Linked DNA regions of Homo sapiens: region 2 is linked to region 1. The links come from fine-mapping of genetic effects on plasma protein levels. A gene starts in region 1. The other region holds a variant in brackets. All regions are shown on one strand. Distances are from middle to middle.

Region 1 (8,334 bases):
CAGCTCCTTCACTACCTGACAGCAAGTGAAATGTCTGTTTTTCTGGTCTCTTCTCTAACATGCCACACCAGGAAGCTCCACTGAGTAGCAACTTTGGTAGCACAGGAATCTTTAGGACCATATATCAAAGTAGTTAATTAAATCCAGCAGTTCAATAAATGTGTATTGCCAGGCAATGTTTTAGGCACTGGGGATACACCACTGAACAAAATAGGCGAAAATCCCTGCCTTCTGGGAGTTTACATTCTTGAGGGGTAAAGACAGTATACAGTAGAACAAGTAAGTTCTATAATACGTTAGAAGATAGTACGTGCTTCGGAAAAACCCACAGCCTACCAAAGACAACAGAGAGACCAGGGAAGGAAACGAAATTAACTGGCTGGCCCCAAAAGTGGCAGACATATCACACATCCATATCACGTTTCCTGCTGCTGCACCGCGACCTCAGCTACTTCCTGCTCAGGTCAGCCTTGTTCAACCCACATTTCCTGGGAACCTGTGCTGCTAGGCCCACACCTCTACAGATTCTTCCAGCTAGCACCCCAGCTGCCCCAGCGTGGTGAAAGGAATCACCACCCACCTAAGCCATGTCTGACTCATGTTTCCCCCACGCCCATGTGTGATCCACCAGATAGTCCTGGAGGCTACAGCACCACGGCACTTCCTGAATCTGGTGACTTCTCACCGCCTACCCTGACTGCTCCACTGCTGGCCCAAACCACCCTCACCTCTTACCTGGATGACTGCGGTAGCCTCCCAAGAGGTCATCCTGCCTCCATTCTTGCCACACTGCCAGCCATTATCCACACAGGGCCCAGAGTGATTTTCTTAAGCTTCTATGAGATGTCTTTCCCTTTGCTTCAAACCCTCCCTCCAAAGGCTTCCCCTAACTAAATTCTGACATACGCGCTAAATTCAGCACAGCTCGCAGGCTTTGCCGTTGGGCCTGATAAAGCCTTCTGTGCCCTTATTTGCCTTCACTCTTCCTTCTTCATGTTGCTCCAGCCTCTGTATTTTTCTTGACCCTTGAACCCACCAAACCATTCCTATCTCAGGGCCTCGTCCCCAGCTGAGGATACTTGCTGCCCTTTCCACCCCAAAACCTTCAGATTTTAGCATGGCTGCCTCATGTCCCCACATGTCCCCTAAGGCGTGGCCCAGTCACTCTCTACCACACTGCTCTATTGTTTTCACGTCTCTTGTTGATGGTTTCTTGACTATATTCTGCCTCCCGACTCTGCCCTCAGTTTGAGGACAAGACTGCCTGTCTTGTTTACCACTGTGTCCCTAGCACCCAGAGCAGCCGCTGGGTGACTGGTTGCCTGTGATGCCTGCCAGTGCCTTCTAAAAAATCATCCCTATTCTTCAAAGTTCACCTGAGATCCCACTTTCTCTTTGAGGTCTTCCCTGACAGTCCCCAACTTCTCAACTCTTACTGCCCCTCCTGTCTATGCTTATTACTCTCTGTGCTGCAGGGTCCTCACAGCCAGTCGCCTCCTCATTTCTGTGAGTGCTGTCTTCCTCACTCCCTACCAGTCCCTGAGGACAGAGGCAGCTCTAATTCAGGCGTAAGAGCAAAAGGGCAAAGCATCTGTGGTCAGGAGGCACAGGTTCAAGTCCTGGGTCTATCACTCACTGGCTATGTCTCTTGTCAAGTTACTCTCTCCTGTGAAACAGAAACAATAAAAACAATGCTAGCTGGGTGTGGTGGCCCACACCTGTAGTCCCGCTGAGGCAGGAGGCTTGCTCGAGCCCGGGAGTTTGAGGCCAGCCTGGGCAATAAAGCAAGACCTCATCTCTAAAAAATACAAAAACAAAAACGCCCCACAACACTACCTTCAGGATTATTGCGATAACTAAATAACGTCAGTGAAAGCATTCTGTACGTTGTCATGCACTCAAGAGAATTCCCAGCTCCTAATCCAGTCAGGGCTTGGAAACTGTTTCTTGATTGGTGGGTAGCCAGAGCTAGAGCTGGTAAGATATATTTTCACATTTAAAAGGTCCTTTGTATCCCCACCACAGGCGCCACGGTATCCCCATGTGTCAGTCAGCATGAGGAAAAACGAAAAGTTCACAGCTCCTATGGCTGCTGACCTTGCAGCTCCACGAACGCTGCTTCCACCAGGACTGTCACTATGGTGCCAGGCCAGGGACCTGTGGCAGAGTGCAAGCAGCCTTGTACGGGGGAGGGACGCACCAGAAAACCTGGGCTTTTGCTTTGGTTCAGCCACTACTCCGCTCCCCGTACACAAATTCTGCTCCACACTGGGCCTCAATTTCCTGATCTGCGCACTCAAGAGCTGGGCTAGATTAGTGTAATCTTCAGACTTGAAAGTCATCACCACCACCAACAATGACTGTTTTTTCTCAATGAATTATCAAGGAATACATAGAAAACATAAAAGCAGAGTTATTTTGGCTGAAGTGGAGAATAAGGTGCCCAAAACATCTTATCTACTGTAGATCACCTCCAAGGTCTTTTCAAGATGGAAATTTCTAGGATTTCTACGATTTTAAAATTGAAAAAGAAATTGCTGTGCCTCATTTACTTTTGATATAATTTTCTGCAATTAGTAATTGACACGGTAGAATAAGCTGCTAGAAGTTTTCACAATGTAATTTACAACTGAAAATGACTTTGGAAGTTGATATGCCTTTGAAATGAAAAGCATTCTGTTTTCTAAAGCTCCACTCACGAGTCCTCTAAAGTTAAAGGAAAGTTACTAAAATGACAGGATCAGAAATAAAGCCAACTGGAAAATAAGCAGCCCTGGACAAGTTCTACCTATCACCACGTCAATTTTAACAACTCACTGCAAGCTGCTTCTGTGCCTGTGTAGCGTGCTGCGAAAACCACCGGATGAGGCCAACCTCGTTAAACCCTGGTTCCATTCCTTCCCCAACCTGCCATGTGACCTTGGACAAACCCCACAACTTTTCAGAGGTTTTCTCAGCTACGAAACAGGAGTGATGACAGCGTTCTCATCAATCTAACACGGCTAAAAGATTCAAATAAGAAAACTGGCGAAATGGCACTTTGGAAATTGTGAAATAATTTTCAAAGTGAGGGATTGTTACTTTATGCTAAAAAACAAAGCTGTCATGAGTCAATCAAACAAATGCCCCAAACCCCACAGGATAAAAGTCTGTCTGTCCTATCATCTATAATCTTTCAGAGTTGTAGGGCAGGGGAGAGGCAGGTCCAAAATGTAATCTCACCTTTAGAGAGAACAATCTCAATGAGGAGTGCGGTTTGTAGACTGGCTGGTATTCACACATGTGCTCAACAGCAATAGCCTAAGTCCACAAGTCTCTCAAGTGGAGGGTCAGGACTCTTGCTATTAAGTTCATGAAGTTCCTATCATAAAAAGAACCCTCTCTGCCTATATTTAGAAAAAACAACCAGTCTCGGGTCATTCTAGAGAGAAGGGCCAGGACTCACCAAATGTACCTCTGAGCTAAACAACAATTCCCCTAGATGGCTCAGACCCTCCTCCCTATAATGAGAGGCAGGTGCTAATTTCTAAGTAAGTCCTTGACTCAGAAGCCATTAAAGGTCACAGGCATCAAGAGACACAGGCCTGTGTAATGGAAAGACCAGCGGCTAGAGAGGGAGCAGACTGTCACTAACCTGCTGTGTAACCTCATGTAAGCCCCCTGCCCTCTGGTCATGGACTTCTCGATCAGTATACTAAGGGGACCTGAGATAATTTCTACAGCCCATTCACCGTTAAGATTCTAGGTTTCCTCTTGACATCCCTCTGTCCCCTGCACTGGTTCCAATACTCACCTTGTGGCCATGGCTGAAAAGTGGCAGCACAGGGAACCCTGAGGAGGCGAGTCCTGTACTCCCACCAGCCTATGTTGATCAGAGGACCACAGACCCTCTGAAGACAGCAACTTGATTTTTATAGCCTACTTAAAACCAAACAGGAAAAGGAAGCTGAACCAGAGACAAAGGGGAAACAAACCCAAGTGAAAAACTGAAACCTAGGTAGAAAATAGAGAAACAAGAAGCTAACACTGCAGAGCCCCACCAGCGTGGGCGGCTGAGAGGCACTGCACAGGCCCAACCCCCCACAGCTGGCAACCTCAAGCCTCTAAGTGCTTCCTGCAAGGGTGCAAGGGTGGGTGAAGCCTGCTGGAGGTAGGGGCCAGGTCATGGTGCTGGCCCCCCACTAACTAGCTCTATAGTCTAAGTCAATGCCACTTAAGATGTCTGAGCTTCAGTTTTCCATCTGTTATAGAAAGTGCAGGCTCAGCACAGATGACTTCCTATAGGCCTTAAGAAAAGGCTACAAGAACTCGGAAGAGTCCCCACTGACTCTCCAGAGAATAGAAGACTAGATGATAAAGGCTATAAGCTGATCAAGTCTTTTTTTCTTTTTTGAGACAGAGTTTCACACTCCTGTCACCCAGGCTGGAGTGCAATGGCACGATCTTGGCTCACCGCCACCACAGCTTCCTGGGTTCAAGCGATTCTCCTGCCTCAGCCTCCTGAGTAGCTGGGATTATAGGCATGTGCCACCATGCCCAGCTAATTTTGTATTTTTAGTAGAGACGGGGTTTCTCCATGTTGGTCAGGCTGGTCACGAACTCCCGACCTCAGGTGATCCGCCTGCCTTGGCCTCCCAAAGTGCTGAGATTACAGGCGTGAGCCACCGCGCCAGGCCACTGATCAAGTCTTCATATTTGACTCTGGAACAAAATTTGTACTTCTACCGAGGAGACAACTCTCTCTAATGATGACATTTAAGTCAGCAATTTAGAGCCTGAAAGGAAAACACTTGAGGAATACTGGAAACTTGGCTTTGTCACTTGTTTATTAAGTGGGTGGCCTCAACTGTAAAATGGGGTTATACTTATTTTGCCTATCTCCACAGGGTTCTCATGAAGGTAAGATCCAGTCCAATCTTTCTTTCAAAATCTACTGAGAACTCACTAAGAAGCATGCACTGTGTTAGAAATCACAGACAAAAAATTGAGAACGACTGTACTTGTCCTTAAAGGACTTTTATGGTTTAGAAAAGAAGAGGTTGATAATGTTAGCAAATATTTAATAGATCCATTAAAATATTATTGATATAGTGAAAAACAGCTGTACAGAGTACAGTACAAAAGAAGTATCAGTTCTAATTGGAGAGATGAATGCACTTTGAATGCTAAAAATGCATTTTAAAAGGCTTTTAATGATATACATTTCCCTTTAAGCACTGTTTTAGTTGCAAACCACAGTTTGGATGTATTGCAGTTTTCTTTTTTCTTTTGGTTCAAAATATTTTTAATTTTCTCTAGTGATTTCTTCTTTTATCCATGGATTATTGATAAGTGCTTCGTTAAATTTTGAAATATTTGGTGTTTTCCTATATCTGTTGCTACCTATTTCCAATTTAATTCTACTGGGGCCAGAGAACATATTTGGTGTGACTTCTTCCTTTGTTTTTCCTGGTATGATCTCAATCCTTTCACATTTATCAAAATGTGCGTTATGGCCCAGCATGCAGTCTACCTTGGCGGATGTAGCATATGCACAAGGAAAGAATGTGTATTCTGAAACTGGTCGGGTGCAGTGTTCTAGAATGTCAATTAGGTCATGGTGGTTAATAGTATTGTTCAGAACGTCTACGTCCTTGTTACTTTTTGTTGCTGTTGTTTGTTTTTGTCTAATTATTCTATCAACTGCTGAGGGAAAGGTCCTGAAATCTTCAACTGTGACTGTGGATTTCCCTCTTTAATTCTGTCACTATTTCTTGAAGCTCTTGTTAGGTACATTTTTCCATGCAGCATTGGTTTTCTGCGGCTGCTGTAACAAATTACCACAAACTGAGTGGCTTATAACAACACACACTTATTATCTTAGAGTTTTGTAAGATGATAGGAGGTCAGAAGCCCAACATCATCAGAAGTTCCACATAGGTCTCTCTTGCTCACCTCTCTCAGCTTCTGGACACTGACTGCATTGCTTTCTCATAGCCCCTCTGTCCACTTTCAAAGCACGCAGCAGTGCTCCGACCCTTCTTCCACAGTGACATCTCTTTCTGACCGCGGTGTGGACAGGTTCTCTACTTTTAAGGACTCGTGTGATTAGACTGGACCCAATGGATAATCCAAGATAACCGCTCCATCTCAAGGTCCACAACTTTAATCACGTCTGCAGAGTCCTTTTTGCCATGTAAGGTAACATTTTATTTATTTACTTTTTTAGAGGCAGGGTCTCTTGCTGTCACCCAGGCTGAAATGCAGTGGTGTGATCATAGTTCACTGCAGCCTCAAACTCCTGGCTCAAGTGATCCTCCTTACCTCAGCTTCCTGAGTAGTTAGGACTATAGGCACACACCATCATGCCTGGCTAATTTGAAAACAGTTTTTTAAATAGAGATGGGGTCTTGCTATGTTTCCGAGGCTGATCTCAAACTCCTGGCCTCAAGTGATCCTCCTGCCTTGGCCCCCAAAGTGCTAGGATTACAGGCATGAGTCACCATGCCCATCCCATGTAAAGTCACACAGTCACAGGTTCTAGGGATTACGGCGGGGTGATGGCATTACTCTGCCTACTACCCATCCTTTCACTTTCAGTCGATTTGTATCTTTGTATTTAAAGTATGTCCTATAGGTAGTGTATGACTGAGTCTTGCATTTTCACCCAGTCTGACAATTTCTATCTTTTAATTGGGGTATTTAGTCTATTTACATTTAGTTTATTGATGTAGATGGATACAGGTCTACTACTTTGCTATTTGTTTTCTGTTTGTCTCATCTGTTTCTGGTTCCTCTGTTCTTCGTTTCCTGTATTCTTGTGGGTAAACTAAATACTTTTCAGAATTCCATTTGAATTTCTCTATTGACTTTTTAGCTATACCTCTTTTTTTTTTAGAGGTCTTTCTAGGGATTACAATATACATTCTTAACTTTGTAGGGTACACTTAGAGTTAATATTGTACCACTTCAGTAAAATGTTAAGAACTTCATAATTGCATAATTTCATTCTCCATTCCCATCCTTTATGGTGTAGCTGTCATATGTTACTCAAAATACAATGTTACATATTTTTGTTTTGGACAGTCATATATATATATATACATATATATATATATACACACAGCTGACTCTTGAACAGCACAGGTTTGACCTTCACAGGTCCATTATACTACTATTTCTTTTTTTGAGATGTGGTCTCACTCTGTTGCGTAGGCCGGCGTACAGTGGTATGATTACAGCTCACTGCAGCCTCAACTTCCTGGGCTCAAGCAATCCTCCCATCTCAGCCTCCCAAAGTGCTAGGACTACAGGCATGAGCTACCACCATGCCTGACCCAGGTCCACTTGCACATGGAATTTCTTTTACCTCTGCCACCCCGAGACAGCAAGACCAACCCCTCCTTTTCCTCTTGCTCCTCAGCCTATTCAATGTGAAGATGACAAGGATGAAGAACTTTAAGATAATCCATTTCCAATTAATGACTAGTGAAACTAATGAAAACATATTTTCACCTATGATTTTAATAAAATTTTTTCTCTAGCTTAATTATAAGAATACAGTGTATAATACACATAATATACAAAGTATGTATTAACCAACTGCTTATGTTATTGGTAGGGCTTCCTGTCAACAACAGGCTCTTAATAGCTAAAATTTTGGGGGATGCAAAAGTTTAGGTGGATTTTCAACTGTTCGAGGGGCCAGTACCCTAACCCCGGGATTGTTCAAGTCATGTGCGTGTGTGCGTGTATTGAAGAAATAAAAGTCTTTAGGTTTACTCATATATTTCTCTTTTCTGGTAATCTTTATCCATCCCCGAGCACTTGAATTTCCTGGTATCTTTTTTTTTTTTTTTTTTTTTGCAGCCTGAGGAACTTCCTTTAGCATTTCTTTTTTTTTTTTTTTTTTTTTTTTTTTTGAGACAGGGTCTTGCTCTGTCACCCAAGCTGGGTGATCTCAGCTCACTGCAACCTCTGCCTCCCAGGCTCAAATGATCCTCCTGCCTCAGCCTTCTGAGTAGCTGGGACTAAGGACATGTGCCACCATGTCTGGTGTATTTTTGTATTTTTTGTATTTTGTAATTTTTGTATTTTTTGTAGAGAAGGGTTTCAACATGTTGCCCTGGCTGGTCTCAAACTCCTGGTCTCAAGGGATCCGTCCACCTCAGCCTCCGAAAGGGCTGGGATTACAGGCGTGAGCCACCATGCCTGGCCTCCTTTAGGATTTTCTGTACAACAGGTAAGTTGGCAATACATTCTCTTAGTTTTCTTTTATCTGAAAAACATCTTTGTCTTCAAGCTTCAAAGCACTTTTTGTGAATAGAGAATACTGAGGTTTTTTTTTTTTTTTTG
Region 2 (8,334 bases), 110 kb after region 1:
TGGGCGACAGAGCGAGACTCTGTCAAGAAAGAAAGGAAGAAAGAGAAAGAAAGAAACCTGGTAACCAGTTGGAGTCCCTTTTTCACATATCATATCAGTTTCCTATTGCTAACATAAGTTACCAACAGCAGAGTGGCTTCAAACAACACACATTTTTATTATCTTACGGTTCCAGAGCTCAAAAGTCTCTCTGGGCTAAAGCCAAGGTGCCAGTAGGGCTGCATTCTTCTGGAGGCTCTGGGTGAGTTTATTTGCCTCTTCCACCTTCTCTCAGAGGCTGCCCATATTCTTGGGCTCGTGGCCCCTTAGAATGGGGCCCTCTTCAAAGCCAGCCGCGGGGGTTAAGTCTCTCTCACATGGCATCGCTGACCTTTTGTCGGCAGTCGTGTCTCCCTCTGACCTCCTGTGCCTCTGTCTTCCACTGTTAGGGACCCTTGTGATGACATTGGCCCCAGTGGCTGCCAGTGTAATGATCCATGATAATCACCCTATTTTAAGGTCATCCGATTAGCAACCTTCATTCTACCTGAAACCTTAATTCCCCTTTGCCATGTAACCTACATATTCACAGGCATTAGGTTTGGGCATATTGGGGTGGATGTAAGGGGAACATTCTGTACATAAGTAATCTGATATCAGCTTCTGGCAGAACAAACAGATTACTTATATACAGAATGTTATCCTTAGAGTTCAGAAATTTCACTGGAGTGCAAAAAAAAAAAAACCCCAGATAACCATAAAAACATAATAAAACATTAGAAGTATAAAATACTCTTCTATTATAGGTAAGTTTTAGCTTAAAGAAGAAATCGGCCAGGCGTGGTGGCTTACGCCTATAATCCCAGCACTTTGGGAGGCTGAGGCAGGATGATCACTTGAGCCCAGGAGTTTGAGACCAGCCTGGGCAACATGGCAAAACCCTGTCTCTACAAGAAATACAAAAATTAACTGGGCGTGGTGGTGCGCACCTGTAGTCTCAGCTACTCGGGAGGCTGAGGTGGGAGGATTCCCTGAGCCTTGGGAGGTCAAGGCTGCAGTGAGCTGTGATCACGCCACTGCACTCCAGCCTGGATGACAGAATGAGACCTGGTCTCAATTTAAATAAAAAAAAAAAAAAGAAAGAAATCAATGTTAAAACTACAAATTAAAAAGAAATTAATGAAAAGGAGAAAACTTCAGAGCAACACTTATGGGATACAGTGATACCTTAAATGCTTTTATTATTATACAACAAAGAATGTATATAAATGGACCAGGCGTGCTGGCTCACGCCTGTAATCTCAGTGCTTAGGGAGGCTGAGGCAGGTGGATCATTTGACGTCAGGAATTCAAGACCAGCCTGGCCAAGATGGCGAAACCCCATCTCTACTAAAAATACAAAAATTAGCTGGGCGTGGTGGCACATGCTTGTAATCCCAGCTACTGAGGAGGCTGAGGCAGGCGAATCGCTAGAGCCCAGGAGGCGGAGGTTGTAGTGAGCTGAGATTGCGCCATTGCACTCCAGCCTAGGTGATGGGAGTGAAACCCTGTCTCAAAAAAAAAAAAAAACAAAAAAAAAACCAAGGCTGGACGTGGTGGCTCACATCTGGAATCTTAGCACTTTGGGAGGCAGAGGAGGGCGGATCACCTGAGGTCAGGAGTTCGAGACCAGCCTGGCCAACATGGTGAAACCCTATCTCTACTAAAAATACAAAAATTAGCCAGGCGTGGTGGCAGGCGCCTGTAATACCAACTACTTGGGAGGCTGAGGCAGGAGAATCGCTTGAACTCAGGAGGTGGAGGTTGCAGTGAGCTGAGATAGTGCCACTGTACTCCAGCCTGGGTGACAGAGCAAGACTCCGTCTCAAAATAAAATAAAAATAAAAAAGCAAAACAAGCAATACATATATAAGTGAATTAAATATTCAACTTAAAACACAACAAAATAGGCCGGGCGCAGTGGCTCATGCCTGTAATCCCAGCACTTTGGGAGGCTGAGGTGGGCGGATCATTTGAGGTCAAGAGTTCAAAACCAGCCTGGCTAACATGGTGACACCCCGTCTCTACTAAAAATACAAAAATTAGCCGGGTGTGGTGGTGGGTGCCTGTAATCCCAGCTATTCGGGAGGCTGAGGCAGGAGAACTGCTGGAGCATGGGAGGCGGAGGTTGCAGTGAGCCGAGATCCTGCCTCTGCACTCCAGCCTGGGAGACAGAATGACACTGTATCTCAAAAAACAAACAAACACACAAAACAGAACAAAAAAACCCAGCAAAATAAATAAAAAGAAATTATGAGGAGGAAATGAATAAAGATAAAAGCTGAAAATAGTGAATTAGATAACTGAAATACTGAAAAATAAAATTAAAATATGCTTCTTCAAAAAAAAATTGAAAACTCACAATGTGCAAGAAATAAAAGAGAAAAAAAAGCACAGAACAGAAGGAATGAGAAATGAGACAGACTCACAGGGGCAAATGAGAGGAAGTTAATTTCCAGGGGATGTTATTGCAGTTGCATTTCAATAAATGTCCACCTGTTCTACATGCAATGGGTGATTTTCTTAAAAATCAAGTAAGTAGAAATGTTGGTAATAGGGGAACTTAAATTGGAAGAATTTTAAAACCAAACTATACCTGGGGGCACCTGGGTGGTTAACCACTGGGGGAAACCAGCCACCTCGGGCCGTCCTTGAAAAGATGTGCATTGTAACTGTGAATAACTGAGCAGGCTCCTGTCAAGACAATAGTTGAGAACCATCCCAAGACTGAGCCAGGAGCCCGGCAGGTAGACCCCGCTCTGCCACCCTTCACTGTGGGGATTTGGGCAGGTCCTTCCTCTCCCTGAGCCTCTGTTTCCTCCAGAGGCCGCTCCAAGATGGCAGACTCTGGAGCCCCGTGGGGCAGGTGGAGGTGGCCAGGGCAGGGGGTGTTAGGGAGGAGGAAGGAACAAGATAGGGTGAGAGTGCTTCTGAGTCACCACCACCTCTGACTGCTTCTGCCAGAGCAGCCCCATTCTTAACCTTATTACAGAGTGGATTTTCTTGTATGATTTCATCTGAAAAAAGGTTTTGCTGCTGGTATTAGTCAGGGTTCTTCAGAGAAACAGAGCCAATAGGATGTATAGTGTATAGACAAATAGAAAGAGATTTATTATGGGGGATTGGCTTATGCGATTATGGAGGCTGAGATGTCCCATGATCAGCCATCTGCAAACTGGTGGCCCAGGAAAGCGGGTGGTGTGGTTCCAGTTCACATTTGAAGGCCTAAGAACAAGGGGAGCTGGTGGTGGGAATCCCAGTCCAGGTCCAAAGGCCTGAGAACCAGGAGCTTCAACGTTCTGGGGCAGGAGAAGATTGATGTCCTAGTAGATGTCAAACAGAGAGAGAAAGTTCGCCCTTCCTCTACCTTTTTGTTCTGTTCAGGTTCTCAACAAGTTGGATGATGACCCCCCAGCCCCCCCACCCTACCCCCGCATTGGTGAGATCAAGCTTCCTTAGTCTACTGATTCTCTTCTGGAGACACTCGCAAACACCACCAGAAAGAAGGTTTGACCAGCTCTCTGGGCATCCCTTAGCCTAGTCAAGTTGACACATGAAATTAACCATCACACTGTTGAAACAAAGTGTGAAAACCAGGTGATCCCCCAACTTCCGAGCTACTTCCACGTCCAAACTTCGTAACATTCACCTGGCAAAGTTCACTGGTTTTGCTTTGATAACTTTCTGGTTTCTTTGAGTGATAAAGATGTTCATAATTTAGCCCCGAAATGGAGATGAATATGTGTGTGACGTGTGTGTGTGTGTGTGTGTGTGTGTGTGTGTGTGTGTGTGTGTTCCTTCTTTCGCAAAACCACTGCCTAATTTGGAATATAATTTCAACTTGCTTTTCCAAAATGACCTAGAGCTTGGCAAGAGCATAGGGCTGATGAGCCTGTGAGGTGGGTAGATA[G/AG]CTTCCTCACACATGCCCGACTTTCTCCTTGGAGAATGATGAGGTTTACAGCCTTTAGGTAAAAATAGCTTTGTGTGGCTTCCGCCAGGAAGACACTTAAAAAGGGAGAGAGGATTAGGTTGCTAAAAAAGAAAAAAATCTACCAAATTGCTACCATAATTTTGGAATTCATTTTTGCAAAACATATCAGAAGACATAAAGATGATCTTGCCTGCTAACTCAGTAATTCCACTTCTGGGCATTTGCCTCAAAGAAATAAATTTAACTAAAAGAAAAGCTCAGTGGACAGCTGCTCACTGCAGTCTCCTCTGCCATAGCAAAACACCCAAAGCAAGAAAAGATGCTCAGGGTGAAGTGTGAAGGGCAAAGGGTACTGCAAGTTCAGAGGCTCACAGTCCACTCCTTCATGTATTCACCAAACACTTCTGATAACATGTGGGCACCAGGCACTGTGCTAGGTGATGGGAAAGAAGAGTGCCCGAGATGCAGAGTGCTTCCACCTTAGGGTGCTGATTGGCAGAAAGGCTGGAGGCACATAAACCTACACCCACAATTCAGCATGAGAAGGGAAGTACAACAGAGGTGGGGACACAGAGGAGGGACAAGAACCAGCCTTGGCACTCAGGGAAGCCTTCTCGGAATAAGTGACTTTTTATTTTTTTTTGAGACGGAGTCTTGCTCTGTCGCCCACACTGGAGTGCAGTGGTGCAATCTTGGCGCACTGCCACCTCCGCCTCCTGGGTTCAAGGGATTCTCCTGCCTCGGCCTCCTGAGTAGCTGGGACTACAGGTGCCTGCCACCATGCCCGGCTAATTTTTGTATTTTTAGTAGAGACGGGGTGTCACCATGTTGGTCAGGTTGGTCTCGAACTCCTGACCTCAGATGATCCACTGGCCCTGCCCTCCTAGAGTGCTGGGATTACAGGTGTGAGCCACTGTGCCCTGCTGGAAGTGACTTTTGAGCTGAGTTCTGAAAGTTATGGTGGTTGGCCAGAATGATGAGAGGAAGAGGGTTGGGGGCACAGAGCATGAGCAAAGACCAGGTGGCAACGAGAGGCTGCCGTGGTGGTTGGACAGAGAAAAGCTCTGTGGCAGGAGCTGAGAGATGGTGCTGGAGAGGAACCAGAGCTCACTGACCGGTCCTGTGTGTAACATGAAGGAGCTTTTTCCTAAGAATTTTTAAGCAGGAGAGTGATATGGTCAGATTTATGGTTTGGAAAGGTCACTCAGACTGCCTGGAGGAAGGTCAACATGGCTGCAGCCAGGCCAGCAGTGATGGTGGCCCTCCAGGGCATAGGCAGCATCCGTGGAGAGATGACGTGGACACGTGCCCTGGCTCCTCATGGAGCAGAGCCCTCGATTCTGGAAGAGGCAGAATGGTGCTGTGGTTGAGTGTGATCTTGGAAACCTGACTACATGGGTTAAAATCCCAATTGTTTCACTGTGTGACCCTCTCACAGGGCTGTTGAGAGTGTTGAAGGAGCCGTCATGCATAAGGCACCTCCAACAGTACCTGGCAAGGGGTGGGTAAGAGCTCGCTGAGTGATGCTATCGAGGTTGTCACTTATTGGCTGCTTGCTGATACAGGCAAGAGGAACACCCACATGCCTGGCATGGGCCACTGGGAGGATGGCATGCGGGTTTTTGGGGGAGAAGTGGATGAATTGGGTTTGAGCATGTAGAGATGGAGGCTCCAGTGAATGAGCAGATGGAGACATCCTGCAGGATGTTGAACACAGAGGTTTGAAGCTAGGAGACAGGCTGAGTCAAAGATAGTGATTGGGACCTTGTAAGGGTTGAAGAGGCGGCTGGCCCCAGGGAGCTGATGAGATAACCTGGGGAGAAGGTGGAGGGAGAAGAGAAGAGGGCCCCGAGAGAGCTCTGTGGCAAAGGGATGGACCAGGAAGGTTTTTTTCTAACAGGAAATATTTGAGCCTGTCTAAATGTTGATGGAAGGAGCATATAAAGCACAAGTACACTGTGGAGAAATGGCATTCAGTAAGGGTGGCCTTTAGTATTTTTTATTATCATCATTATCACCATCATTACCACCACCATCACCATCACCACCATCACCACCATCACCACCATGATCACCAGTGTGAAAGGAAAATATCTTGGGCCCCTTCAAGCTGGGAACCGCTCAGGACAAATCTGCCTCTCATTCTATTCAAAGTCATCCCTCTGCTCACAGAGATACATGCATATTCTGATTGCCTCCTTTGGAAAGACTTATCAGAAACTCAAAAGAATGCAACCATCTGTCTCTCACCTACCTGTGACCTGGAAGGGAAGGGGTGGGGGGGTTGCTTTTAGTTGTCTCTGCCTTTTTGCATGGAACTAATGTAATTCTTACATATATTCATTGACGTCTCATGTCTCCCTAAAATGTATAAAACCAAGCTGTGCCCTGACCACCTTGGCACATGTTGTCAGGACTTCCTGAGGCTGTGTCACGGGTGTGTCCTGAACCTTGGCAAAATAAACTTTCTAAATTAACTGAAACCTGTTTCAAACTTTGGGAGTTCACAACAGTATCACCACCATCATCATTACCATCATCACCACCATCAGCATCACCACCATCATCACCACAATCATCAGCATCACCACCATCACCATCACCATCACCTCAGCATCACCACCACTATCACCACCACTAACACCGCCATCACCATCACCATCACCTCAGCATCACAATCATCATCATCATCACCATCACTATCACCACCATCACCATCATGTCAGCATCACAATCATCCTCATCATCATCACCATCACTATCACCATCATCACCTCAGCATCACAATCATCATCATCACCACCATCATCAGCATCACCACCATCACCATCACCTCAGCATCACAATCATCGTCACCACCACAATCACCATCATCATCATCACCATGATCATCAACATCACCATCACCTTCATCATCACCATCACCACTAGCAGCAGCATCACCACCATCACCACCACCATGAAACATCACAACCATCATCATCACTATCACGCCGTAACCATCTCCACCATTATCACCACCATGATCACCAGCATCACCACATCATTGGCATCAACATTATCACCATTACCATCACTGCCATCATCAGCACCACCACCACCACCATCATCATCACCATCACAATCTTCAATATGAGAAGACTGTCAAGGAGCAGTGATATAGATTATGGCATCATGTTATGCAGCTGATAGGAGTTATTTATAACAAAGTTATAATGACATGGGAAAATGCCTATAAAGCTACATGAAAAAAGCAATAGAAAGCATTGTATATGCAATATGTTAACTATGGAAACACATCCAAAACTACTCGAAAAAGAAATACAGGAAGGAAATGTGCTCAGAAGTAATAGTGCTATTTCAGGGTGGTAGTGATATGGCTGGGCTTCTTTCTGAATTTGCTATAATGAGTCTGGATGAGTTTTATGATTTAAAGCACATTAACCTTCATTTTCTAAAAAGAAGCAAAGGTGGGCAGCTGGGGGCTGCCCGAGCTAAGGTCACAGCAACCTTGGGTAAATCCCTGTTCTCCAAAGGGCTTTGATTCTGCCTTTAAAAAGAGGGAGTGGGCAAAAGAGCCTTTCCCCCGAGGTGTGCTGAGTCTCTGGCCTAGCAGTGATGTCCCAGGAAGGAGAAGCTGTGCAGTTAGACAGCCTCGGGGACCTGGCACTCTCACACCATGCCCTGGTATCTTCAGCCAGGGGTGTCCCCAGCTGGCTGCAAGTCTCAGGCCCTTATTCTGTCACCACACTCTCTGCTCAAAAGCCACCTCCTCTGCGTGCCTGGGCTTAAGTAGCCCTTGTGACTACCGGCCCCTCCCCGCCCATCTCCAGCGGGAACAGTCTCCTCAGCCTCTTCATTGCTTTCTCCATTCACAGTTCCATGAGAGCAAGAACTCTGGTATCCCCGGCCCCTAGGATGTGCTGCCTCAGGGTAGGGGTGGTGTTTGTTGGGTGAATAGATGAACACAATAGCCCTTCTCGACTCACAGGGCATATTAATGCGTCTAGCTCAGTGCCTCCCCAACACAGGGGCTATTAACATGCTTTGGAATTGGGTTTCACAGAACATACTTTGGGAGATGCTCCCCCAAGACGACCCCTGAGCGTCACTGCAGCCCCACCATTCTATAAGTGGTTAACAGAAACATCTCTGCTATGGGGTGGGCAGGTATCACGAGCATGGCAGACGAGCGTGGTGGCTGTGCGGCTGCCCTCTGGACCCCAGATCCCTATGTCTGGCTGAGTCCTCTCCCTCCCCTACTTCTGGCTGACGTCTGAGCCCTGGAGCTGCCTCAGCCTGGGAAAGAAGTGCAGGAGGGAACTTGCCAGAACAAGGTAGAGGCCTTTCCTGTAGCATCAGTTTCTGAGAATGCTTTCAAATGG

Evidence for each region. PIP is the posterior inclusion probability: the model's chance that the variant is causal. Sun 2018 read protein levels with aptamers (SomaScan).
Region 2: its variant is fine-mapped to the plasma level of the EVL protein (Sun 2018, PIP 0.95).

The regions. Positions count from the first base shown.
Region 1 is chr14:100,060,971-100,069,304 of GRCh38, reverse strand. It overlaps EVL (Enah/Vasp-like), which reads right to left and starts at 3,883. Exons shown (of 14, transcript NM_016337.3): 1 at 3,794-3,883. The coding sequence starts at 3,804. It overlaps LOC124903379 (a long non-coding RNA gene), which reads left to right and starts at 5,261. Exons shown (of 2, transcript XR_007064329.1): 1 at 5,261-6,175. RefSeq lists enhancers at 288-377, 459-753, 1-932, 1,508-1,577, 3,010-3,079 and 6 more.
Region 2 is chr14:99,950,687-99,959,020 of GRCh38, reverse strand. No RefSeq gene overlaps it. Among named protein-coding and RNA genes, the nearest start is that of EVL, 110 kb to the left of the region's middle. RefSeq lists an enhancer at 7,980-8,334. The variant G/AG (reference allele first, on the strand shown) is at 3,929.